4 linked regions of the Homo sapiens genome follow. The protein of the gene in region 1 purifies or fractionates together with the protein of each later gene. This does not show direct contact. Each region holds a gene or a part of one and is shown in the gene's direction. Other genes may lie near its edges. The genes, in order: HS2ST1, TBC1D23, DIAPH3 and SLC7A1.

The links.
Region 2: the proteins of HS2ST1 (region 1) and TBC1D23 purify together in Homo sapiens (affinity purification with mass spectrometry; 3 studies listed by BioGRID and IntAct, with this or other methods). This does not show direct contact.
Region 3: the proteins of HS2ST1 (region 1) and DIAPH3 purify together in Homo sapiens (affinity purification with mass spectrometry; 4 studies listed by BioGRID and IntAct, with this or other methods). This does not show direct contact.
Region 4: the proteins of HS2ST1 (region 1) and SLC7A1 purify together in Homo sapiens (co-immunoprecipitation; 4 studies listed by BioGRID and IntAct, with this or other methods). This does not show direct contact.

The regions. Positions count from the first base shown.
Region 1 is NC_000001.11:87,099,617-87,106,646, forward strand, and holds part of HS2ST1 (heparan sulfate 2-O-sulfotransferase 1), read left to right. Parts: intron 1-3,815; coding exon 3,816-3,973; intron 3,974-4,853; coding exon 4,854-5,080; 3' UTR 5,081-7,030. UniProt on the Homo sapiens protein: Catalyzes the transfer of a sulfo group from 3'-phospho-5'-adenylyl sulfate (PAPS) to the 2-OH position of iduronic acid (IdoA) or glucuronic acid (GlcA) within the heparan sulfate (HS) chain and participates in HS biosynthesis.
Region 2 is NC_000003.12:100,291,971-100,299,000, forward strand, and holds part of TBC1D23 (TBC1 domain family member 23), read left to right. Parts: intron 1-2,874; exon of another isoform or gene 2,875-2,956; coding exon of another isoform or gene 2,957-2,992; intron 2,993-3,116; coding exon 3,117-3,241; intron 3,242-3,331; coding exon 3,332-3,378; intron 3,379-4,201; coding exon 4,202-4,305; intron 4,306-5,952; coding exon 5,953-6,075; intron 6,076-7,030. UniProt on the Homo sapiens protein: Putative Rab GTPase-activating protein which plays a role in vesicular trafficking. Involved in endosome-to-Golgi trafficking.
Region 3 is NC_000013.11:59,665,073-59,670,948, reverse strand, and holds the end of DIAPH3 (protein diaphanous homolog 3), read left to right. Parts: intron 1-4,102; coding exon 4,103-4,365; 3' UTR 4,366-5,366; downstream 5,367-5,876. UniProt on the Homo sapiens protein: Actin nucleation and elongation factor required for the assembly of F-actin structures, such as actin cables and stress fibers. Required for cytokinesis, stress fiber formation and transcriptional activation of the serum response factor.
Region 4 is NC_000013.11:29,585,659-29,592,688, reverse strand, and holds part of SLC7A1 (high affinity cationic amino acid transporter 1), read left to right. Parts: intron 1-5,896; exon of another isoform or gene 5,897-5,964; intron 5,965-7,030. UniProt on the Homo sapiens protein: High-affinity, low capacity permease involved in the transport of the cationic amino acids (arginine, lysine and ornithine) in non-hepatic tissues.

The DNA.
Region 1 (7,030 bases):
CTCACCAAATCTCATGTCTTTCTTATATTTCAAAATATATTCATCCCTTCACAGTAGTCCCAAAGTCTTATTCCAGCATTAACTCAAAAGTCCCAAGTCCAAAATCTCATCTGGAGATGAGTTCCTTCTACCTATGAGCCTGTGAGATAAAAAACAAGTTATTTATTCCCAGTAACAATGGTGGTATAGGCATTGGATAAACATTTCCCTTCCAAAAGGGAGAAATTGGCCAAAAGAAAGGCGCAGTAGGCCCCACACAAGTCTAAAACCCAGCAGGGCAGTCATTAAATCTTAAAGCTCCAACATAATCCTTGACTTCATCTCCTGCATCCTGGTGCAAGGGGTGGGCTCCCAAGGCCTTGAGCAGCCCTGCCCCCATGGCTTTGCAGGGTACAGCCCACATGGCTGCTCTCATGGGTTGGAATTGAGTGTACCTGTAGTTTTTCCAGGCAAAGCGTGCAAGCCGATGGTGAGCCAACCATTCTGGGGTCTGGAGGGCATAATCACCTTCCCACAGCTCCACTAGGCAGTTCCCTGTTTGAGTCTTTGTGTGGGGTGAGGGCTGCAGTGCAACCCAGTTCTGAAATCTAGGTGGAATCTGCAATCTAGGTGGAATGCAAGCTCCTTCATGCTTGCATTCTGAGCATCTGCAGACTTAACACCACCTGGAAACCACCAATGTTTACAGTTTATGCTCCCCCAGAGTGGTGGCCCAAGCTATACCTGGACTCCTTTGAGCTGAGGCTGGAACTGGAGTGGCCGGGATGTGGGGAGCAATGTCCCAAGGCTTCTCAGGGCAGCAGGACCCTGGGCCTGCCCCCTTAAATCATTCTTCCCCCCAAGGCTTCTGGGCCTGTGATGGGAGGGGCAGCCTGGAAGATCTCTGAAATGCCTTTGAGGCCTTTTTCCCATTGTCTTGGATATTAGCAGTTGGCTCCCTTTTAGTCATGCTAACCTCCTTAATAAGTGATTGCTCCACAGTGTTATTAAATTCCTTCCCTATTCCCTGCCCTATTCCCTGGAAAATAGGCTTTCCAGTGGGAGTGGTTGCTCATGCCTGTAATTCCAGCACTTTGGAAGACCAAAGTGGGAGGATCACTTGAGCCCAGAAATTTGAGACTAGCCTGGGCAACCTCATCTCTACAAAACATAAAGTTAGCCAGGTGTGGTGGCATATGCCCATAGTCCCAGCTACTTGGGAGGCTAAGGTAGGAAGAACACATGAGTCCAGGAGGTTAAGGCTGCAGTGAGCCAAGATCCAGCCTGGGTAACAGAGCAAGACCCTGTCTTTAAAACAAAAAACAACAAAAAGAGGGGGCTTTCCTTCTCTACCACATGGCCAGGCTGTGAATTTTCCAAATGTTTATGCTCTGCCTCCCTTTAAAATGTAAGTTCCAACTTTAAGTCATTCCTTTGCTCTTGCATTTGATTGTAGCCTCTTAGACACAGCCAGGCCACATCTTAAATGCTTTGCTGCTTAGAAATTTATTCTGCCAGATGTCCTAAGTCATCACTTTTGTGTGTGTGTGTGTGTTTTTTGTTTTTTTTTTTTTTTTTTTTTTTTTTTTTGAGGCAGTCTCACTCTGTCAGCCAGGCTGGAGTGCAGTGGCACGATCTCGGTTCACTGCAACCTCCGCCTCCCGGGCTCAGGCAATTCTCCTGCCTCAGCCTCCTGAGTAGCTGGGATTACAGGCGTGTGCCACCATGCCCAGCTAATTTTTGTATTTTTAGTAAAGATGGGGTTTCGCTATGTTGGCCAGGCTGGTCTCGAACTCCAGACCTCAGGTAATCCGCCTGTCTCGGCCTCCCAAAGTGCTGGGATTACAGGTGTGAGCCACCGCACCCGACCAGTCATCACTCTAAGTTCAAACTTCCATAGATCTCTAGAACTTGGACACCACATAGCCAAGTTCTTTGCTAAGGCATAACACAGGTGACCTTTACTCCAGTTCTCAGTAACTTCTTCATTTCCCTCTGAGACCTCATCAGCCTGGACTTCTGTCCATATTTCTGTCAGCATTTTTATCACAATCATTAAACCAGTCTCGACTTAAGAAATTTCAAAGTTTCCCTCTTCTTCCTGTCTTCTTCTGAGCCCTTCAAATTCTTCCAACCGCTGCCCATTACCCAGTTCCAAAGCCACTTTCCCATTTTCAGGTATCTTTATAGCAACACCCAACTCCTTAGTACCAATTTTCTCTATTAGGCCATTCTTACATTACTGTGAAGGAATACCTGAGATGGTAATTTATAATGAAAAAAGGTTTACTTGGCTCATGGTTCTGCAGGCTGTGCAAGCATGGCACCAACATCTGTTTGGCTTATGATGCAGGCCTCAGGAAGCTTACAATCATGGCAGAAAGTGAAGTGCGAGCAGGCACATCATATGGCAAGAGTGGGAGAAAGAGAGTGAAGGGGGAGGACCCAGTCGTTTATTATTATTATTATTATTATTTTTGAGACAAAGTTTTGCTCTTGTCGCCCAGGCTGGAGTGCAATGGTGTGATCTCGGCTCACCGCAAACCTCCACCTCCCAGGTTCAAGCAATTCTCCTGCCTCAGCCTCCTGAGTAGCTGGGAATATAGGCATGCACCACCATGCCCAGCTGATTTTGTATTTTTAGTAGAGATGGGGTTTCTCCATGTTGGTCGGGCTGGTCTTGAACTCCCAACCTGAGGTGACCCGCCCACCTTGGCCTCCCAAAGTGCTGGGATTACAGGTGTGAGCCACCGCACCAGGCCCCCAGTCTTTTAAATAACTAGATCTCTAATGAACTAACTGAGCCAAGAACTCAGTCATCACCAAGGGGATGGTGCTAAACCATTCACAAGGGACCTGCTCCCATGATCCAGTTACCTCCCACCAAGCCCAGCCTCCAACACTGGGAATCACATTTCAGAATGAGAGTTAGAGGGAACAAATATCCAAACCATATCACTATGTAGTCTGCAAAACCTAAAATATTTATCCTCTGGCCTTTTATATAAAAAGTTTGCCAATCCCTGCCTTAGAACAATAAAGACTTGCTCTATTGGGCATTTTTGAGAAGTTAATTGTATTTCTTTAGTATGTTTCATAGATTCACAGAACTGGGAGGGTTCTTAGAAACCAATTAATCACTGTTCCCCTCCCCCTCTTTGTTTTTTTTAATAGTTTGAGAAAACAAAATTGAGAAAGGTGAAGCCACCAGCTCAAGATCATACTGCTACTTAAATGCAGAGCTAGAATTTGGATTAAGGAATATTTGTGCTAAAAAGAACCCAAAAGTATAGTTTATTTTGGATCAAATCTCTGTTAATAGCATTAGCTGACAATGTAAATTAAAATAAAAATAAAAGATTCTTAGCAGAGCCATTATCTATTTTCTGTTCCTCAGAAATTTCAGAAAACACTTAGCTCACAAAAACCCGAAACTCACACAATAAGCAGTAAACACAAATTGTTTACACTTTGCTAGAGAGCTCTTAACAGAATTTAGAGTAGTTTAAAAAAGTTAAAACACACACTAAATCATATGGGAGGGGTGTATGTTTCTTATATCCATATACATTTTTAAAGTGCCCTTAAACTAAATTGCTCATGTTAAGAGTCCTCTGGTAAACTCTGAATTAGCACTCATAGTTGAGCAGAAACTGGAGATGGAAGCAAATGAAATTGGAAACAGGTGTGCCTCCCACAGGATGGTAATAAAGAGGCATTGAGGCTTTGGATATACATGTGTTTATCTATTTTCTCTGTAATATATGGTGTCAAAGGCACCAGAAACACTCAGCAGATTTCACAACCAGGTTTTAATTCCTTTTCTTTGGTTTCAGGAATGTGGGAAGCAGGTGGGCTATGGATCAAGCCAAGTATAACCTAATTAATGAATATTTTCTGGTGGGAGTTACTGAAGAACTTGAAGATTTTATCATGTTATTGGAGGCAGCATTGCCCCGGTTTTTCAGGGGTGCTACTGAACTCTATCGCACAGGTATATAAAGGAAGGGTTTCTTTTTAAAGCTTTCTTTGGTTTGGTTTTTTGGTTTGCAACTTGTAAATATGTGATTTGAAGTTTCTTCAGTGAAACACAACAGATAGCTCCAGAAAGGCAGGTATCTTGTCGGTTTCTGCTCACTATTTTCAATTGAGTAACTGTGAATTAGGTGAAAATTAGAAGGCACTGTAGAAATAGTGGAATGATACAAAGTACAGAACCAGCCATAGAAATGTATGGTATTCAATAATGCCAGATATCAAACATTAGGCCTGTGTATAAGTCCTGCCTACTACCATTTTGAAGTAGAGGTGTGATAGGGGAACTGAAGTATGCCTAAGCCATGTTTTAGCAGCCTCAGCCGTATTATCATGTGTCTGAAAGTGATAAGCTAATTGTGTTTTTGTTTTGTTTCGTTTTTTGCTATTGCTTGATAAGATGCAGTCATAGGAACTCTTCTCCTTGAGGATGCATATGCCCTAGCTTCTAACACATAATTTTAGAGAATACAGATTATGAGAAAATAGAATACAGTTTGACAATAGGTATTTTATCAAAAATAAACTAGTCTCAGAGCACCAAGCACTTGAGAATATAGTGTGTGAGGTGACAGCCTACACTTTACTGTGTGCCAATCCTTACATTGACTATTTGACATTTCATTAAGTCTTTACTAGGTTAAGGATTAACATTCTAAAGGACTGAATCATGGCTCTAGTTTGATCAAGGCTCCGTTTTTACCTGAATTATATAAGACAATTATGTTACCTGTTCTTAATGTGTCATATTAACCACCTCTTCAAATAAAGAGGCATTGATCTTTTGTGTGTTCTCCAAGAATTATTTACCTTTCCTTTTTTTCCCCCTTTGTAAGTAGGAAAGAAATCTCATCTTAGGAAAACCACAGAGAAGAAACTCCCCACTAAACAAACCATTGCAAAACTACAGCAATCTGATATTTGGAAAATGGAGAATGAGTTCTATGAATTTGCACTAGAGCAGTTCCAATTCATCAGAGCCCATGCCGTTCGAGAAAAAGATGGAGACCTCTACATCCTCGCACAAAACTTTTTCTATGAAAAGATTTACCCTAAGTCGAACTGAGTATAAGGTGTGACTATTGGATTCTTGAACTAAAATTTGACCCTGTCTTCACCTTTGTTCTCAGCTCCACAGTCTGGATTGCTGACAGTAGGTGTATATGACAATTTGTATTGAGCCAAATTAGGAAACAGACAGTAACGTCAAGGAAGTAGATACTGGCTGGCATTGTCAGTGTTCTAAGTTTCAGGCATTTTTATTTTTCCTGGCTAAACGTTGGTGAAAGTTATAACCTCCTGCCTGGGAGAAAATATACATCACCTAAAATGAACTTATGGCAGGTCTAATCAAAAGGCTAAATACAATTTCAGAAAAGGTTCTGATACTCTTGTTTTTGATAAAGCATTTTTTCAACTAACCATGAATTAAGATGAGTCCATTTGCCTCTTCTGCCTTCACTGAGGGTTTGGGTTATACACCTCTACTGAATTGTGTTAATAACTGTTTGGCAGTGTGTACTTTGTTTTTGTGAGTCATGTCTCATGAAATTTATTGGAATGTTTAATCATATTTGCTAAGAAATGTTTCTGCTGTAGTTGGATTTGCCCATATTTATGTAGGTGGTTTTAATTTTTTAAATGGTGATTAGTGTTAAAAATCAATTTAAATCATGACTAATATGGTAAAAAGATAAAGCATCAAAGCAGTATTTCTCATTCCTGCCTCCTCAATATCTAATACTGGGAAGATACTTCAAAGAATATTGAGATTGTCTGAAGTTTTAGTTAAGATTTTCACACATTAATATCAAAAAAGTAAGTTTAGTATTTGTTTCTCCATGGGTTATTTGTAAAGCTGTAAACTGAGATATCGGTGACTCCGTATTATGACTCCATTAGTGAGCTGTGGTATGGGTAGGATTTTCCTACTTCTTCTGTACTTTTACCTGTAGACTATTTTTACTAAGGTGCTTTATAATGTGTTTTAAAGCATTGCATTTACAAAACAAGGAAAATGCTGTAAATATTGCATATTTTATGTATTTGGACCAAAAGGTTACAAGTAATTAGACAAAAGTGGTTTTGCACCAATTTTATGTCAAGTAAAACCATCAGACCTACTGTTCTTGTATTTCTCATTTAACTTTACTGTTAAGACATCACTGAAATGAACTTCAGTAAGCTTTCAATTTTGATACACAGTTCATTATTCATAACTTGAGGCAGTAATTACAGTGGAATGAGTACTGGACAAGGAGTCAAAAAACTTGATTTCAGGTCCTAGCTCTAGCACTTACAGCTGTGTGATCTTGGGCAAGTCACTTAACCTCTCTTTGCCTCAATTTCCTCATCTTGAAATGAGGATAATAATACCTGCTGTACCTACCTCACAGGGCTGTTGTGAGGATTAAATGAGATGGCATGTGAAAGCACTTTGAAAATTGTAAAGCGCTATGTAAATGTAAGGTATTATAGAAACATCTTTAACATATAGTTTCATACCATTCATTTTTTAACAAAGAAAGGGAAAAGTCTGCTTGTAAGCTGGTTGAAAAAGTTAATCTTGATATAAATTTGTGTTTGATAAATATCCTCTCAGTGTTTTATCTTCCATGTTTCAACAACTATTGAAATATGAAATGCCTGTGAACTCTTAAAGCTTCATGAGCAGCTGCTTGAGTTCAGGAAGTTCACTGTTAGAAATAGGCTTTGTTAGCTGACTAGGGTCAGGGAAACTTTTCTCTTCAAATTTGAAAGCTGTTTCTGTTTTCATTTTACATTATTATTCAGAAATGGTAGCTATTCTATACCTATGGTTTAAGTAAATATTTCTGAATAAGGCTTCACCATACTGTAAGCATTTTAGGTAGATTGCCTTAAAGGTTATGGGAGGGCATGAGGGAACACTTCTTATGAGAAAACATTTATAAACAAAAGAAACATTTATAAACTAAAGAAAAACTAAAAGAATGACAGAACAATCATCTTAGCACCCTTTCCTCACAATAATATA
Region 2 (7,030 bases), on another chromosome or scaffold:
GCCAGGCTGGTCTCGAACTCCTAACCTCAGGTGATCTGCTCACTTCAGCCTCCCAAAGTGCTGGGATTACAGGCCTGAGCCACCACACCTGGCCCTTATTTCAATCTGTGATAATATCACATATCATGTAGGCGTTGGAAAATTCTATTGTTCATTTTCGAGGGAATATATATGCAAAAGGCAGGTAAATTCTACATATTTGTGTAACAATAGTTTTGACCTTACAGATCCTTTGTAAAGAATCCTGGGGACTTCTACGAGGTCCCCAGACCACACTTCTGGTTAACTGCTGCTCTTCTGGTTAACTTGAGATCTTTCTAAAACAATGATTGGGTCCTAGGAGACTATATGTTCATATCCTTTTATTATGTATTACTTAACTTTTCTTCAGGAAGAATCCCATTTCTTCCCATTATTAACTGTGTGATCTAAGACAGCCTCTGAGCTTCAATTCCTCATCTGCAAAGTGGAAATAATAGTACTGTACCTACTTCAGAGGATGATAGGATGAGTTAACAATCAGGAAATGGGTAATTGGAGAATTCTAACTGGTTTCACTTCTGGGCTCATTAAATCTCAAACCTCAGTAACCTGTTCTTTAATTCCCTCTTGGCCACAGTCTTGTCAGTTTTTTGTTTTTGTTTTTGAGACGAGGTCTTGCTCTGGTCTCTCAGGCTGCAGTGCAGTGGCACAGTCTTGGCTCACTGCAAGCTCCACCTCCTGGGCTCAAGTGATTCTCCCACCTCAGCCTCCTGAGTAGCTGGGACCACAGGCATGCACCACCACACTTGGCTAATGTTTTAATTTTTTTGTAGAGTCAAGGTCTCACCATATTGCCTGAGCTGGTCTCAATCTCCTGGGCTCAAGCAATCCTCTCACGCAGGCCTCCCAAAGTGCAGGGATTACAGGTGTGAGCCAAGCCTAGTCTTGTCAAAACTGTAGCTTCTCTGAGATTCATATGTTGCCACTGAATCTACCTATTTATGTTAAGGTAGTAAACTATTTTTCTTAGGCATTTTAATAATAGAGGTCTCTCTGCCTAGGAAATGCCATTTCTGATGCCAGAGCTCTGAATTCGTGCTGATAGCTGGAGGTTTAAACTGAGTGGTTTCTCTTCAGCTGATATGCCAGATAGTTTGTTTGTTTGTTTGTTTGTTTACTTATTTATTTATTTATTTATTTTGTGAGACGGAGTCTCTTTCACCCAGACTGGAGTGCAGTGGCATGATCTTGGCTCACTGCAAGCTCCGCCTCCTGGGTTCACGCCATTCTTCTGCCTCAGCCTCCCGAGTAGTTGGCACTGCAGGCGCCCGCCACCACACCCGGCTAATTTTTTGTATTTTTATTAGAGATGGGATTTCACCATGTTAGCCAGGATGGTCTCGATCTCCTGACCTCGTGATCCACCCGCCTCGGCCTCCCAAAGTGCTGGGATTACAGGCGTGAGCCACTGTGCCTGGCCTCAGATAGTTTACTCTTGCTACTAGTATCATGTTGATGAAATAGAGTTTTTTAAGTATCATGAGATGAAACAATTAAAAAGTAATTCCTAAACCACTGTGAGCAATGCAGTGGTAACTTTCGTTGAGCTAAGTGAGCTTAAAGATGACTGTGTATTGCTATTCTGTTTGTATGTACCTCTTCTAATCTGTGTTTGTAATCGTAATTTTTAAAGCAACCACAAAAAACATTAGTAGCATTATGTATTTTAAAAGCCTTGTGGTCAAGTGTGATGGCAATTACATGGGCTGTGGAATCTCAGGCTTTTTTCTGTTCCCAACACCACTCACTAGCTCTGTGAGCTTGAGAAAGTAAAGTAATCCAAGTTCCTCGCCTGAAAAAAATGGGGAGTAATTGAAATCTACTTTCTCACCTGTAAAATGGGGAGAAATGTGTTTACTTTCCAGGCCTGTTTTGAGAATTTAAATCAGAGATATTTTTAATGATACGTGATAATAGTTTAGTATTAGCTTAGTATTGCACACCTGTTGTGAGAATTTAAGTAAGAGATATTTTTAATGGTATGTGATAATAGTTTAGTATTAGCTTAGTATTGCACAAAGAGTGCACTAAATATATGTGTTCCCGTTAATTCTCTTTAGCTGTTAAAAATTTTTTAAATTTAAACTTGTAGATGGAATTATTTCTGTATCTAATGAAAGTTGAATGATCTAAAAATATTACTTCATGCAACTTAAAACACAGTTGGGCTGTAGAGTTGCTTATAAATTAACAACTCTTAGCTCCTGAAATTTATTGAAGGATATGAATGTTATTTATTTTTTTTTGTGTTTATTTTTTTTTTTTTGAGACAGAGTCTCACTCTGTCACCCAGGCTGGAGTGCAGTGGTGAGATCTCTTCTCACTGCAACCTCTGCCTCCCAGGTTCAAGTGATTCTCCTGCCTCAGCCTCCCAAGTAGCTGGGACTACAGACACGTGCCATCATGCCTGGCTAATTTTTGTATTTTTAGTAGAGACGGGGTTTCACTATGTTGGCCAGGTTGGTCTCAAACTCCTGACCTCAGGTGATCCACCCACCTTGGCCTCCTAAAGTGTTGGGTTTACAGGTGTGAGCCACTGCGCCCGGCCTAATCTCTTTCAAGTGATGTACAAGTGAGCTTTGGGAGCAATTCATATTTATATTATGATTAAAGTTTTATTAGCTGCTCTTAAATTACCACGTTTGATCCTCACAATTACCTTGTAATTTAAATACTGTGCTGTTATTATATTGTAATTATTTTAGTTACTCTTATGGAGCTCAGACCATAATTATGCTAGTTATGCTATGGCAAAGATATGTGCTAGTTACTTTAGGTATTCTTTTCACAATAATAGTAGAAGATGGGTAGCATTATTCCTCTTTTTTACAGAAGTAAAAATGGAAGCTTTAAAGAGGTTGACATGTCCTAAGTCACACAGTTAATATGTGGCTCCATTGTCCCTTGAATTCACATGTTTTGCCTTTGGATTTCATACACTAAGATTAAGGTACGCATTAAATATCAGGTGCAGATAATTTGATATAATGTTTCTTATTCATTTGCTTTAATACTTTTAAGAGAACAAGTCACCTCCAGTGGTTTATGTCTCTCATTTCATTTCCTGATTACAGCTTGGAAGTCTTTTTGCATGTTACTGTTCCACTGAAGTCACTCAGGCAATATGGGATGGATATCTACAACAAGCAGATCCATTTTTTATTTATTTCTTAATGTTAATTATCCTTGTTAATGCAAAGTAAGTATCTGGTTGGTTAGATTTTTTTTCCTCTTTTCTCAGGGTGCTCTGTTAATATTTAACTCAAATTGATTTGATTCCCTTTTACAGAGAAGTTATTTTAACACAAGAGTCAGACAGCAAAGAAGAAGTTATCAGTAAGTATCATTTAATGTAGTGAAAACATTTCAGGTCTCTTTATCTGTGTAAGTTACTCAGTTTCCTCATTCGTAAATTTAGGAGATTAGTCTAGAAGAGCTCTGAGGCTCCATTCAACTCTCAGATTATATAAACACTCTCCAGGTACAGACCTTAAAGACTATTTTCCTTTATTTTGCCATCTTCATTCATTCCTTCATATTTGTTCACTCTTTCATTCCTTTCCATATACTATTTCATTAGTTTCACTGTTCGAATAGATTGCCCTCCTCTGTTCCTCCCTACCCATCCTTAATTTACCTTTCAATACTCAGTTTATATGATATTTCAATTGTGAAACCTTGGTTCTCCTTTTGGATTCTCCCCACCATATCCCCCACATAGAGATAGTTACTTCCTCTCTATATTCCCTGGCACTTTGTTCTATCTGTATAACAATGTTTATCTTACTGTATTATAATGATTTATTTTTATTTTTTCACACAAGACAAAGTTCTTTAAGTCAGTAACTATTTCTTAGGCATTTTTTATGTTCAGGGGCCTTGGCATTTCTTCATATATGTTTAATAAATAAATCATAGAATTCTAATTAAGGTTAATGAATTTGATTTGATTGCCTGACACTATCCTTCACTGACAAGAGATTTACATTAGCCGTTTCAGCTCATTTGGAGAAATCCACTTTTCCACAAGTCATTGTAAAAGCACCAGTGTTGAGACTCCATTTGCATAGTATTTATGATGAAGATATTTCGGCTCTGATACATAAACAATATTTGCATTTTTCACAAACTACTAAATATTATGTCTATAATATTTCAGAGTTCTTGGAAAATACTCCATCCAGTCTGAATATAGAAGATATAGAAGACCTTTTCTCTCTGGCTCAGTATTATTGCAGCAAAACACCGGCTTCTTTTAGGAAGGTATAAGACCAGAAATGACCAACTATGTTGTATTTCATATTTTGTACATTGTTTTATTACTTTATATTCACTTTAGTTAAAATAGGTTGTCAATTTTTTCTGTTTCTTTATGTGTTGTAGTTTTGTGTGATTTTTTTTTTTCATCTCTGTAAATACCCTCCCTAGTGGAGGAACAGACAAGTTAAAAAGATAGTAGAACGCATCTTACCTCTCTTCTGATTATTGTTATTTCTGATCATAAGAAAATTGACTGAGATATTTTCTAAATTAGTGCTTTCTTGACTTTAAAAATTATATTACAGGGCCGGGCGTGGTGGCTCACGCCTGTAATCCCAGCACTTTGGGAGGCCAAGGTGGGTGGATCACGAGGTCGGGAGATCGAGACCATCCTGGCTAACACGGTGAAACCCTATCTTTACTAAGAAATACAAAAAATTAGCCGGGCGTGGTGGTGGGCGCCTGTAGTCCCAGCTACTCGGGAGGCTGAGGAAGGAGAATGGCGTGAACCCAGGAGGCGGAGTTTGCAGTGAGCTGAGATTGTGCCACTGCACTCCAGCCTGGGCGACAGAGTGAAGACTCTGTCTCAAAAAAAAAAAAAAAAAAATTATATTACAGTAGTAATCCAGTGGAGGAGGTAGAGTTTTGCCACTTTTCTCTGGAGTTCAGGCTTGTATAGTCTTAATAATGCTGAGCTGTCTTATAAAGAAAGGTCATTTAGGCCCCGTAAAGACTTAGATCCTTAGACCAGACAGATGCCTAATAAAGGACACCAGATTAGAAGTATGAGTGATGTGAACTCCTGAAAAATGAAACTCTAAGAAGCAAAAGCTAATAGTGGAAGAGGCACAAGTTTATAAAGCAGACAGGTTTGTATGTGACTTCAGGTGCCCATGAGAGCACCTTTTTTTTTAAAGCATTCTGCCATAATAATTTCTAGTTGGTACTCATCGTGTCACTGAAGTGTCAAGATAAAGTTAAGTTATGTTTAGTATACTGTGTTTTAGAAAGCAGGTAAAGGAAACCTTTTAAGATCATTTTCCCTCAAAAATAACTAATTTAAAAAGACTTATTTCTAGGGACCAGTTTCAACTATTTTAATAATTTTCTTATATAGAACTCTTCAGTTCCTAACAATGCTGTATAAGTCAGATGGTAGGATAGTAGTTTAAAATACTGAATGAAAAAGAAGTCTTATTTTTTTTCTTATTCAAGAGCTGCACCTTTTATTCTTCAGACATAGTGAAACTGTACTAGCAGTTGTGAATTAGAGCAGGCTGTGGATCAGTATTTTAACTCATTTATGCAATAGATTTCTGCCACATATTTGTTTTTATTAAGATATGAAAAATTGTAAGTAACCATTTTTAAAGTTCAATATTAACTACAGGTGGTAGTATAGAAAATAGCTATTTAGAATGTGTTTTTTTTTTCTTAGTCTTTCATTTTGTATGAACACTGACAGGGACTTTATGTGACATTTTTGTAGTTCTTAGCCTATAAAATTTGAGATTATGTAGTATTAAGTTTTAAAAAATCACAACTCAAGAGTATTATAATTTTACCTTTTATCATGGTTTAATAAGAATATTTTTAGGAAGAAAGTTTGATTTTTTTTTTCATAATGTTTAAAAATTTCCCTTCAAACAGGATAATCACCATCTCTTTGGTAGTACTTTGTTGGGAATTAAGGATGATGATGCAGATCTGAGTCAGGCTCTTTGTCTGGCCATCTCCGTGTCAGAGATCCTTCAAGCGAATCAGCTACAAGGGGTAAGTAAAGGAAACCCAGTTTGTTAGGGGACTGTTCATTTTAAATACAAGGAACCAACTTCCTCCCTGTTCATTGATTCCCACAAAATCAATTTACTGCAACAAGGTGGCTCTTTTGGCTTTTTGAATGATTGTGTTAAATGTTATGTTCAGAGGGTCATTTTAAAACTTGTCAGCTTGTGTGGTGTTTTAATTGTCTACAATTAATTATTGTTGACATTCTTGACACCAGTTTTTGTAAATCGCCGTATCTTTTTTCCATATTTCAGTAGAGCAACTGAATGTGGCATTGTATAAAATACTTTTAAAAGGGTGAATTTAGCATTTAACAGTTTCTGGTAGTTTACAGCTAATTGAATTACATGGTTTAGTTCCATACAACTTATAGCAAAGGAGAATTGTGAAAATGAAATTTTCTTCATGAAAATCTAATAAGTCAATTTGACCAATGATGTTTTTAATATATGGTCTTTATTACTAGTAGTGCAGCAGTTAACCATGGTGTGTATTTGGAAGGTGTAGTGTATTTCCAAGGTTGAGGGCAGGAAAGGAATGGACGTGGGAAAATAGCCTTTTATGGTAGATCTTTCTTAGTTGGATTTCTTACTGTATCTGCGCTGGTTATTGAGGATTTTCAAAATACAAGCATCTCACTTTTTTCTTATTCAAACTAATATTTAAAAACAAATGAAAACATGTTATCCAGTTTAAAGAGATCCATGTGAACTTCTTTAGTTGAAACTGGTATTTCAGAACATTCTCCCTTCATCCCCCCACACGAAATAGATGTTTAGTTCTTACGTGAATTGAGCTGTTGATAAATTTGCAGATTTATTTGCAAAAAAGAATAGCATATCTAGAGTTGTGTTTATAACTATATAGCGTTTTATAATTAGTTTTATAATTAATTATAATTAGTTTTATAGCTCAAACAGACACTCTCCTTCTATGTATT
Region 3 (5,876 bases), on another chromosome or scaffold:
TGAGGCGGGTAGATAGCTTATCCCCAGCCTGGCTTTGTTGCCAGGCTTTAAAAAAGTGAACTTCCGGCCGGGTGCAGTAGCTCACACCTGAAATCCCAGCACTTTTGGGAGGCCAAGGCGGGCGGATCACGAGGTCAGGAGATCGAGACCATCCTGGCTAACACAGTGAAACCCCGTCTTTACTAAAAATGCAAAAAAATTAGCCGGGCGTGGTGGCGGGCGCCTGTAGTCCCAGCTACTCGGGAGGCTGAGGGAAGACAATGGCGTGAACCCGGGAGGTGGAGCTTGCAGTGAGCCGAGATCCCGCCACTGCACTCCAGCCTGGGCGACAGAGCAAGACTGTCTCAAAAAAAAAAAAAAAAAAAGTGAACTTCCAGCTTGAGCACTTCCTCTACCTGCACTATCTCTAATTATAGTGGGATAGGCAACTCCTCCTGTCCAGCTTCATTTATCTGCTTTGCAGTTTAAGATCTGACTTGCTCATTTCTACAGTTTTGGTCTCCCATGTCTGGAGACAAACCAAAAAGAAGGTGAGGACCAGAATGGGGGCTGTTGGGGTGCTGAGAGCTAATGTGAGGGCTGGGAATGAAGAGTTGTTATCTAGGAATTTCTAAGAAAGCTATAAACATCTTTTAAAAAACTCTTGTGCACTTTTCTTTTTTATTTCTTCAGTGGTCTCAGGAATGGCCTCTTTCCTTTTTACACTGTCTTGTCTGTTACTTCTCATGAAAGATTCCTCACCTGAAACCACAGAGGAGATAAATACCATCTTAGTTTTTCTCTTATCATTTTGTCCCTAAAGCAAGCCCACAGCTATTTTGAGTTTTCTCAAAAGGATAGAAATGCTTTTGCCTGCCTTGGCCCATCCATTATTATTTACCTTTGTCTCCAAAGAAGTTCAAAGACCAAACGCTAAAAGAAAAACCCAGGAAATGCTAGGCATTTCATCCTTGGATCTGGTATAGATCAAGGAGTACTAAGACATTCAAAATAGATATGCAATCCTTGTTTTTGGCAGCATGCATGTTCATTAGCGACCTTGACAAGAACTGTTTCAGAAGAGTAAAGGGTCAAAAGCATGATTGGAGTGGGTTCAAGAGAAAAATAGGGAGCGAGGAATTAAGAGAGTAAGTATGGGCAATTCTTTCAAGGTATTTTACTATAAAGGGAGCCAAGAATTTAGATAGCTGGAGCAGGATGTGGAGACAAACAGAGATTCCCCCCACCTCATAAATTTATGATTATTAGAGCCTCTCTGCTGAGGGGAATGAGCACCTGGAGAAAGAAACCTTTACAATGCAGCAGAGAGAGGGCAAAGCAGCCAGAGGGATGTCCTTGAATAGACAAGCAAAAGTCACATCCAAGCAAAAGTCACATCCGTCACTCACCTTGAGGGCTGTCCTCAGAGGGGAGCTCGGAAGGTTGATTCATCCTAACAGGAGGGGCGGATGTATGTGTGTGCAGTAGGCAGATAATAGGTGTTGGGGAAGGGGTGAGGCACGTGCAGGAGCTCTCTTCTGATCACCTCTATGAGTGAGTTAAATGAGAGGGAGGACATATTGGAAGTTTCAAAGAGTGGAGAAGGTGTGGAGCAGTTGTCTGGGAGAATGGAAGAGTGAATGGACTAGGGAATTGTAGTGGGTTAAAGGTCATGCTTTTGAAGTTCATAGTCATGAATCTAAGTGAGACCAGGAAAGAAATGGAGGATATGTGTGACCTTGGATATACTGTGTTAAGGTAGTTTACATAGGTGTACTATCTGCTTTACAAAGCTGTTGCGAGAATTCAGTGTGTTAGAAGGCATTTTGAAGTATAAGTGCAGGACACCATTATTATGAAACTTAGCTTTGAATTACTTAGCACTTTCCTTTGGCAAAAGGGTTTTCAGATTTCTTGAAGACAGCCTCAGTATCTCTAGAGACAGCATTTGGCGTCTACCACCGATTTACTCAGTAACTAAGTCTAAGCAAATGACTTAACCTCCTTTTGCTTTTACCCCTCAATCTATATGCTGAGGGTGGTAATGTTTGAAGTGCAACAAAATACAGGCTATTCATAAGATGGTATGTATGTATGTGTTTTGTGTGTGTGTGTGTGTGTGTGTATACATACATATATATATATGTGTATATATATAGTTTTAATAATTTGCCTACCAAGTTCATTATTTCTCTGAAGGAAAACCACTGACTAAAAATTCTGATTAGAAACTTTCCTTCTTGGTTTCGTTCAAGAAAGAAATTAATGTCATTAGTATTCAAACTAAAGTTTATCTTGTGTCACAGAGTATGGAAATAATTTCTTTACCCAACACATATTTATTGAGCACCTACTTTGCACCAAGGACGGTCTAGGCACTAAAGCTATAGCAATATTTAAAACAATGTCCCTACTTTCTTGGAGTGCATACATGGACACGCGCACACACGCACACACACATTTCATATTCTATACCCATATTTTGGCTAATTTAATCTCTTCTTTGCCATTAGACTTTTAACTAGAGTTGTCCAATAGCAGAATAAACTGGTTTGTTGGAGATACCATCATGATGTAGTGGTTTGCAGGAAATCAAATAAGCAAAGATAGGAACATTTTGGGGAAGGAGCAGTAAGCTGGCCAACATTCTACATTTAGCTGCAAATGCAGTTTTCAAGCATTCTTTGGGACAGAGGTGTGGGAGCTAGAAAAGAAAAGGATGTGGTCATAGGAACTGCAGGAATACCACATCTACCGTGCTCTTTCCGGCAAACACAATATGTACATTATAAGCTACAGAGCATACACTCCTTTAAGAGAAAATCACTGCTCTATTAGATTTTGATTTTTGAGTAACAGTTGCCCACCTGATATAGAAGGTGAAAGACAAAGTGTATTTATTTTCTTCCAGCAGCTAAAAGGTGATCATACTTCTAAAATTTGTTGAGATTGTCCAAGAAAGTGTGTAAAATCCTCATCCATCACTGGAAGCCTCTGGTCAGAAAATGACAGTGCAGTAAATATCTTCAGCAGCCACCTTTTAATGTACAAGCTGTTTTCAGTTGGAATTTTCAGCACTCACATAAAACACACTGTCATGAGTGACTGCTTGTGCTCCAAAGTCATTACTATTGGGACAATGGAACATCTCTCAGAGAATAACCAAAAAACTTTAAATGTCATGTCAGGTTTGTTGAAGCCATTTTCAAGCCCCATTCAAGGTTACATGAATATTGAGGGTGTCTGTTTTTTAAAAGTCATCATTACCATCACTTACCAATAAAAGAATGTATGTGTGTATGTATATATGTACATGCATGTATGTATAGATGTGTATATACTTGACAATTACATATAACATTCTGGTTTGCTAGGAAGTTTTAATTATTTGCTTGCCAAGTTCATTGTTTCTTTAAAGGAAAATAATCGACTTTTTAAATTCTTATTAGAAACTTTCCTTCTTGATTTCATTCAAAAAGGAAATTAATCTCATTATTATTCAAGCTAATGTTTAATCTTGTGTCACAGAGTGTGGAAATTATTTATTTATCCAACAAATATTTATTGAGGACCTACTTTGCACCAGGGCCATTTTAGGCCCTGAAGTTACAGCAGTATTTAAAATAATGTCCCTACTGTCTTGGAGCACACATTCTAGTAAGACAGACAATGGACAAGTGAGCAAATATATTGTGTGTCCAGCCATCATGTGCCCTGTGAAGGAAAACATGACGGGGAAGGATAGAGCAGTGCAAAGGGCAAATGCTATTTTAGATGGGTGGCTAGGGAAGGCCTCTCTTTTTAGGTGGTGTTTGAACAGAGACCTGAAAGAAATATGGGACCAGGCCCTGATAATAACCACGTGACAGGCATGTCAGGCATAAAGGAAGAAGGAAATGGGCATTAGTGCTAATGAAACGGTTGGCTGTTATATTTTAGTTTATTCTTAAACCCCTGTGTGATTATTTTAAACCTGTCTTACTCTGTTGACTGTTTCTTTGTTTAGTCTATCTAAGAAGACTACTTATTTATTGAGAATAATTATTTTAAATGTGTTTCATAACGTGCACAGTCCTTGGTTATCATGGTGATAAGTTTTATGTTTCTTTTTTCCTTACTGTAGAAAATCAGAAAGTGCAGTTGACAGAAGGGTCACGTTCACACTACAATATCAATTGCAACTCAACAAGGACTCCAGTCGCCAAGGAGCTTAATTATAATCTAGACACTCATACGTCTACTGGGAGGATCAAGGCAGCTGAGAAGAAGGAAGCGTGTAATGTAGAAAGCAACAGAAAAAAGGAAACGGAACTTCTTGGCTCTTTTTCTAAAAATGAATCAGTTCCCGAAGTTGAAGCCCTGCTGGCAAGATTACGAGCTTTATAAGTTAAACTGGTTTTTAAAAAAAATGATTAAGCCAAATATAAAGCCATGCTCTAAACTATAACACTTGAAAAAATTGCTTTTATGTAAGTGACTTTATATAGTTTTAAATTATGATATATATTAGAAAAATAAAGCTAAATATATGATTGCAATGCTTTTTCTATGTACTGGAGGTTTTGGTTTATTCAAGATTGTACCGGGCTTTAATCCTTTTTTTTTTTTTTTTGTCTCCTGGTATTCCTCAGTTCTTTATTTGGTGGTTAAATTATACATATTGCTTTAGAGAGCAGGTAGGTGGCCATGTGTTCAGCAGTGTGTCCTTAAGAAAATACCATCTTTCTAAGCCACTGGAATTTTTACTTTACTATTTTTAACATTAATGGATGTCAGGTCATCAACCTCAAGTCTTTACATATCCATGTATATTCCATATATATTGTTTATATAGGCCCAAGTTTCTCCTTAATTGGGATCTATATACTACCAGCACAACATCAAAAACATGTAATTGAATACATCAGAGCTATATATGTAAGGAAATGACTGGTGACCCCATTATCATCATTGTTGAATTCATGTTAAGTAGACCCTCTAGGGGACCATAAGGCAATTGAGCACATAACGAAAAATGATGCAATAAGAATGTATGCACTCTCTTTGCCAAATGCATGTGCTTTTGTGTAACGTGGATGTAAACAGAATTGCAGTGCTGCCGAAATTCTTGATCTTGGCTAAGAGAGTATTTTTCCCCTTGTAATTATGACTCTGAGATAAAATTGCCATTTTGAAATTTCCAAAGTAACAACTTTTTTTATTTTATGAATAAACTTGGGATTGCAATTTCTCTGATCTGACAATCAATAACTTTAACAAAGATCTAAATAAGTGTTTCAAGGAAAGTTTTCCTAAGCAAATGTAATATTACCTCATTTGGGCATCATTACTCTGTTAATTCTATATCAAAGGAAATAAACTTGCTACTTGCACTAAATGAAAAAAAATGCTTTCTTTTGTCTCTCTTTTTTTGAAAACATTCTGTGGATAAGCTGAGAATAGACTGTGCTATGCAGTCTGTCTAAGCATCTATTTTGCTTTATTACATGTAATAAGTAAGTGACTGTTCTTTTACCTTCAGTTAAAAAGCAGTTATATGGAACTAGTCGGGCAAGGTCTATTGCTTTTTATTTCCTTAAGTTGCCACCTCCTTTCAGCTCTAAGTTAATAAAGTTAATTAATTAGAACTATGAGCCAGGCCCTGTTTATAGACATTGGAGAACAGAGTATTCTCTGTAGCCAGTGTAGGAATAAATGTGAATTTGTATGTATTGCTGAAATGTGCATTTTGCCATCCAGTTGCAATTCCTGTTTTTCTGAAAACAAACCTTAAAAATCAAGAAAGGTGAAGGACATTTACATATTTAAGCTGACGGCACCCCTAACAACAAGGCAGGATTGTTTTGTTTAGGAAAGAATTTAAATGAAAGAACTCTCACTATCAGTTCTTAATGTGA
Region 4 (7,030 bases), on another chromosome or scaffold:
ACTTTAGTGGCCTCCCTTTCTGTTTTGCCATAATCTGCCTCCTCCCCCACTCCCATACCCATCTACAAAGCAGCCTTGAAAATAACCACCCCTGTGGTTCAGTGTGGGTCATGATCTGTCAATCCAGGCTTAGTACATTTCCAAATGGAATTACCAGAAGGATGGGCATCAAACTGGGAAAATGATTTGGTGGCTTGCTAGCCGTGTTCCTTTTTCTCCCAAGGCATTCGTTCAGATGTGCAGTGTTGGCAGACCCAGGGGATGCCATTTACCTGGCCCACTGGTCGAGATTTGGTCATCCCAGGAACTTGGGCTTCAGAAAAGATGTTTCTGGGCTTTGGACCAGATTCTGGCTGGTCTGTGGTTTGCCCCTCCTGCCACACCCAGTGGCTTTCATTGGGCTTTTTTCCTCTAGTTATTGTCAGGAACAGTGGGGAATGGCAGGTATTGCATTTGGTGAACACACTGGATAACTGGAATCAGAGCCGTGTGACTGAGGGAAGAGGCCTTCACAGCTTCAATGCAGAATGGGATGATTATCTGCCCTGAAACGAAGGATGCTTCTTTGAGGGGAGTTGGGACCAATACTGGGAACAGCACCGCTCCTGGCTTCTCTGGCTTTGCTTCTCTCTGAAGTAATTTAGACTTCGTGAACCTTACATACTGGCTCCATCTGTATATTGGGAGAGCCTGTCCCTCTCAGCCTCACAGTAGTGAAGTTAGGAAGCATGGAGTCCACAGTGTTCTTTGAAAGAATCAAGGCACCAAGTCCATGCATTTACATTTCTCTCTTGAGATCAGTCCTTTTGTTAGCAGCCTGCAATTCTGACCACGGCAACCAAAAATTTCTGACCGTGGCAACCAAAAATCAAGCGCGAGGAAACCTGGGGGTTTATTTGGAGGTGGGAGAGGATGTCCCTTCTTCTGGTAGGACTATGTCTGGCTACATTGTCTTTCCATTTTTTTCTGATTGTCCCCTTGCCCCCCTCCCTTTTCTGGGGGCACAGAGGGCATGGCAATTTTGTTTCCTAGCTTTCCATATTCCTACTGCAGTGCTTTCTTCAGAATACTTGTTCAGATCGGATTCTTGGCTGTGAGGGCAACCAGCTGCTTTCCTGTTTCTTTAAAAGTGGATCCCACACTGCCGTGTCCTGCACAGTGAGTTCTGCATTGTAGAAACCATCTAGCAGTGGTGACTCAGGGAGTGGCCTCTGCTCGGTATGGGGCCTCTGCAACATGAGGTTATGGGGCTTCTACGCTGTGGGGTCAAAGGAGACATCATGATCCCTACTGGCAGAAAGAGCAGAGCCCCAGAGTGGGTTCCACTTACGGGGTCAGTGTCTTTTCTGAGATATTCCTCAGAACCACATTTAAATTCTTTTTCATATTGTTTGCATAATAATTGCCTTCTAGTGCCTACTTTATAGGACTGAGAGGATTTAAATGAGATAATCCATGTTATGGATTTAACACAGCCTCTGGCACAAGTCTAAATGTTGCATGTAAGTGTTAACTATTATACTGGAAAGAAGGCTCAGTTCCTTGATTTAGGTGTGGGAGAAAAATATATATATATTTTGAGATAGGGTCACACTCTGTCACCCAGGCTGGAGTGCAGTGGTGCAGTCACAGCTTGTATTAGCCTCCACCTCCTGGGATCAAGCGATCCTCCCACCTCAGCCTCTGAGGTACCTGGAACCATAGGTGTGTACCACCACACCCGGCTAATTTTTATTTTTTATTTTTTGGTAGAGAAGGGATCTCATTATGTTGCCCAGGCTGGTCTCAAACTCCTGGCCTCAAGTGATCCACCTGCCTCGCCTCCCTAAAGTGCTAGGTTTATGGTCGTGAGCCACTTAGCCTAGCCCTGAGAAAAATAATTTTTACAACAACTTAATTTCGCTCTCTCATTTTACCAAGGCATTAAAATGTTGTGCTCTTTCCTTGGGTGGGTTTCTAAATTAGAAGGGGCAGACATAGTCCCAGGGTGCTGGAGGAGGGATGCGGGCCTCTGAGGCATCTGCTGACAGGTTCACCATCCCATCTGGTCCCAGGTCTGAGGGAAGGAACAATAGTCTCTGGGCTGTTTTGGCTCTGACTGCCTGGATGGACTTGAAGCCATCTCTCTTTGGAATCCTGATGTCTCCCTGAGCATGGGGTGCAGGTTTGCTTAGGACTCAGACCCATGCACCTTGCGCTCAGTGACTTCTAGGACTCCTGGGAAACAGAGCTCTCAGCCCCTTTCTTAGTGTTTGCTGTGTGTGGGTATGTGTATGTTTATGTGTATGTGTATGTGTATGTGTATATGTATGTGTGTGTGTTTGGTGGGGGGCAGGACGGGAGTGACTGCCCTGGCTACAGTCATCCCAAACATGTTGTTCAAATTACTCCGAAGCCCTTGGGTTTTAGAAAAAGCAAAGCTGAAAAGCTGAAACTCTGGGCCGTGTTTCCCACCTCACTCATCCCGTGCTTGGGTCTGTAGGATAGGATGTCTCCATACAGCACAGGGGTGGTGGGCGACACCCACCTGGGGGCAGCAGTGAGAAGGCAGGGGCTCATCCTCCCCACAAAGTGGCTGGAGTTGATCTGTTATGGACGTGTTCGAAGTGTCCTTCTCTGCATCTTGTCTGCTTACTGAGTGCCATTAGCCAAAGTCTGTTAGGCCAAGTAGGAAGGAAGGGAGGGGCCCTGGGGCTAGGTAAGATCAATCATTGCAAGCACTTATTTAGTGCTCACCATGTACTCTGCGCTTTATCTATGTTTCATTTGAATCTTCCTAACCACCCAGTGGGATCGGCCCTTCTGGTGTGACTGATGGGGAGAGGGGAAGGCAGGTGGCCCACGGGCACACAGGTAGGCAGTCAGTGGCAGAGTGAAGATTGGAACCCAGATGTCTGCCTGTACCTGGACTCCAGCCTGTCTCGGGATAGGCCTGGCCTGGCCTGCCCTGTGTACACTGAGTGGGAGGCAGACAGATCTGAAGCCCATCTGCCTGCGTCCCTCTGTTTCTGGCTGAGTCCAGGTGGTGCTGGCACCGGTCACCCGCCCCAACGCTGGAGGGCACCCTGCCTCCCCTCTCTTTGCCCTGATTTCCCTCTGCTGTCTCTGAAAGTGGGTCTTCCCCCTCCCAAGTCCAGGCACCTGGCACAGCTGGAGCCCTGGGGTCCTTGGGGCAGCTGCGCTGGGACGTGGCCAGTGTCAGGAGCCGGTGTGTGTGACGGAGGCTGGGCTGCATTCTTTCTGGGTCAGTAGTTTGGCATTTACATCACCAGCCTTTGGCTGGATGCAATGCCTCCTGCCCAGACCACAATGGAGCCTTGTTTGATTTATCACCATCCAGCCACGCCCACACTCCACCTCCATCTCCACCTGGGGAGACCCCTTTGCAGGGGGTCTTGTGGAAATCAGAGACTGTTCGTAGGGGAAAGTCAGCTTCCTTTTCTGTGTTCCATCCTTCTTAAGGCCAGTGGCCGCTGTCATCCTGCCCTTGGCTTGGCTTTGCTGATTTCTACAATATCTTGCGGAGGTGCCCCCTTTCCTTAGAGGATGCATCTTTAACACTCTCAGAGAGGCTGGGGCAGGAGCTGTCCACACCAGGGCCTGCAGCAAGGGCCCGTCTTCCCCAAAGTGACTTGGGAGAGTCTTCCTGGCCCGCAGCTTTTCCACAGTGTCAGGGACACCTCCTGCCCTCCCTTGGGATGAGGCCTGGTCTAGGAGCTGGGGGCGTTAGGGTGCAGTTTCTGGGACCCAGTGAAGGCCCCTGGGAAAGACTGGCAGTTAGAGTTAGGAGAACTCTTCCCTCATCCCTTTTGCCCTTCTCCTTTTCCCCTTTTCTTTTTCAGCAGTTTTTGGATAACATTTCAAACTTAAAGAAAAGTTGCAGAGGCCAGGCATGGTGGCTCACGCCTGTAATCCCAGCACTTTGGGAGGCTGAGGCAAACAGATCACTTGAGGCCAGGAGTTTGAGACCAGCCCTGGCCAACATGGTGAAACTCATGTCTACGAAAAATACAAAAGTTAGCCTGGTGTTGGTGGCGCATGCCTATAGTTGCAGCTACTCGGGAGGCTGAGACACAGGAATCACTTGAACCCGGGAGGCGGAGGTTGCAGGGAGCCGAGATCACACCACTGCACTCCAGCCTGGGTAACAGAGTGAGATACTGTCTCAAAAAAAAAAAAAGAAAGAAAAGAAAAGAAAATTTGCAGGAGTGCAAGGAACTCCTGGGTACCGTCTCTCAGATGCACAGGTGGGTTATGTTTTGCCTCCTTCTATTCTCTCTCCACCCCACACAAACTCACATGCACACAGACACATACATTTTTTTCTGAACCATTTGAGAGTCAGCTGAAGACGTCATGCCATTTTATTTGCCCTCTATACTTCAGTGTATATTTCCTAAGAACAAGGCTCTTCTCTCACATAACCATGGTACAATAGCAAAGTCAGGAAATTTAACATTAATACAACCCTGCGATCTAGGCCACAGTCCATATTTGACTTGCAGTCGTCCACATAATGTCCTTTATAGCTAAGTATTTTTGGGGAAGGAGTTTTGCAGTGTGGGGGTTCTTTCAAAAGAGGTGTGATTTTCTACCTCATAAGCCTTTTTAAGAAAAAGTGTTTCTAAAAGTTAGAATGTTTGTTGTGGAAAATTTGGAAACTACAGAAAATTAAAAGAAGGAGAAAATAAAACCCATTCATAATTCCAGCTCAGAGGCTGAGTGATCGACCAGAAAGGTGGTGGAAAGACTTTCTCAGCTCCTTCAGCTCTGGTGACCTGGCCACACAGACTCGTGATCCCTCCACCACCCACACACTAGTCAGGAGCCCCGCAGCCAAGTCCTGGGGCTGTGGGAGGAGCCGGCCCCTGTCTGGAGCTGACGGTCTTTCATGCTCCTGCCCACCCCTTGGGCAGGTGCCCACCGAGCAGGCAGACTTAACCAGCCTTGGTGGTGCCTTTGTGGTGCATATCCTCCAGGTGGGGAAGGGTGGAGATCGTTAATAAATATCCAGAACTTGTTTGAGACTTGAAAAGAAATGTTGCAGGCCCACTCTTGTCTGGTCTATACCCCTTGCTTCCTGGACTTGGCAGAGGTTAAGGATGGGGCCTGGAGCGTGATTGAGGGAAACAGCACTGGCCCCATATCAGTGAGCTCTTGGGTGCTTCATGTGGTTGTTAGACTTGCCTTTTAATGAGCCTCTTGGCCCCTACCAGTGGGCTACGGAAGAAATAAAATGTGAAATTTTACCATGTGAAGTTTGCTGTTTGCCAATGACTGTGCTTCTCAAAAGTTCCTAGGGAAAGGTTTTAAAACTGGTGCAGGTAGTGAAGTTTGGATCTCGCTTCCCTGCTTTGTCCGCTTAGGTGGTCCATTCGCCATAACAGCTGGAACTGAGAGTGGCTCTCCCCTTTCCTGGCCCAGAACGGGTCTTTGCTAAGCGAGTCTGGTTTCTGGAAGGATTTTGTTCTTAGAAGCTACTACGTCATTGTCCTCAGCTCCCCATCATTTGTACCTCAGTTTCCCTGAGCTGTAAGTCTATGTTATGTGTGAAAATGGGCCTCTGAAGGTCATGATCAAAAGCCTTGAGTATTTTTCCATGTGTTTGTTTTTTCTACTCCGGCCCCAGACCCTCTCCTTGAAGGAGCTGGCCTTGAGAGTGACTTCGGTGGGCAGCCGCCCAGACTCCACACACCCTGCTGAGTCCACGTAACGCCCAACCTGGACGGGCCAGAGCTGAAGGGCTACTCTTCAAAGAAACCCTTTGAAGTGCAAACATTTCCTTTCCTGAAAAGAAGGGAAATTGAAATGAAAACGTATTGTTCTGTGCAGACAATGTTCTCTTCGATCAAAGAGGGAGTGGGGCTTATAAAGGGAGATGCACAAATTAGAGCTTGATGTGGCCAGTGGTGTGGATGTGAATATTCATCCCTGTGGAGGAAAATAGTGGGGTCTCTGAGATTTGTAAGATTGTATTTTCCTTTTTTTTCTTCTTTTTCCTTAAGGCTCTGAATCTAGGTCTAACGTTCTATTTAATGATGTCTCTCCTTTGTGTTTTTATCTTGTGGTAAGCATTTGGGAGTGTCTTTCAGTAAATCATGATACCATTTCCATGTTAGAATACTATGTAGCCAGTAAGAATGGCGTTTTCAAAGAACATTTGATTTTGTGGGAGAAACTTTAATGTTAAAAGTGAAACCATCTGGGTGCAATTTCCCATGTTCCGTGTTAGCTTAATGAGATATATGTATTTGCACAGAAAGAAAAGACTGGAAAAATTGGACTTTGTTTTTCTCACTGCAGTGTTTGTGGCACCTAAAATAGTGCTCAAGAAATATTTATTGAATGACTATTCTTATAATTAGTAAAACTGTATTTAAAGGAGGAATGTCTTTGAGCTAATGTTTTGGCAGGTGGATGGGACAATATATTATTTTAAGTTTCTGTTGTAATTTTGCCCTAGCAGCTCAGTTCTGGTAGATTTTGTTCTTTGGCACACATACATACCCCATTTTGCACTTTGGTACAAATTATACTGTGAATGGGTGACTTTGACATTTATATTTTTGGAAGAATCCAGTTCTACTGAAATCAGAGTATCAGATGTTGTCTTTTTCCTAATGTTCCCAGATGGGGTAGAATTACAGCTTCTTCTTACTTACTCTGTAACTAAGGAACCTTTGGGCCAGTTTGTCCTGTCCTGTGGTTGAGAATTTTTGCCTGGTTTGCCCAGGGTTTCTCATCCTTGAGCATCCAAGGCTACCAAGATACACTGTTCATATGTCGTCCTGGTTTCTAATGGATAGTTATCTAAAAATGCAGCTTCCCATTCTTACCTGCACTGTAGGTTAGCTTGGAAGATGTCCATCCCTGGTCTCAGTGGTCTTGTTCAGGGAGGGTGACTGTCACAGCTGTCCTTTCCTCTCTGGTGAGATTGTTTCATTCCTCCTTCAGGCACTTGGGATTCAGAGCCCTGTTGGCTGCCTCTTCTGTACTGTCAGCTTAGCACAGGATTCTGGAAGCCCGGTGC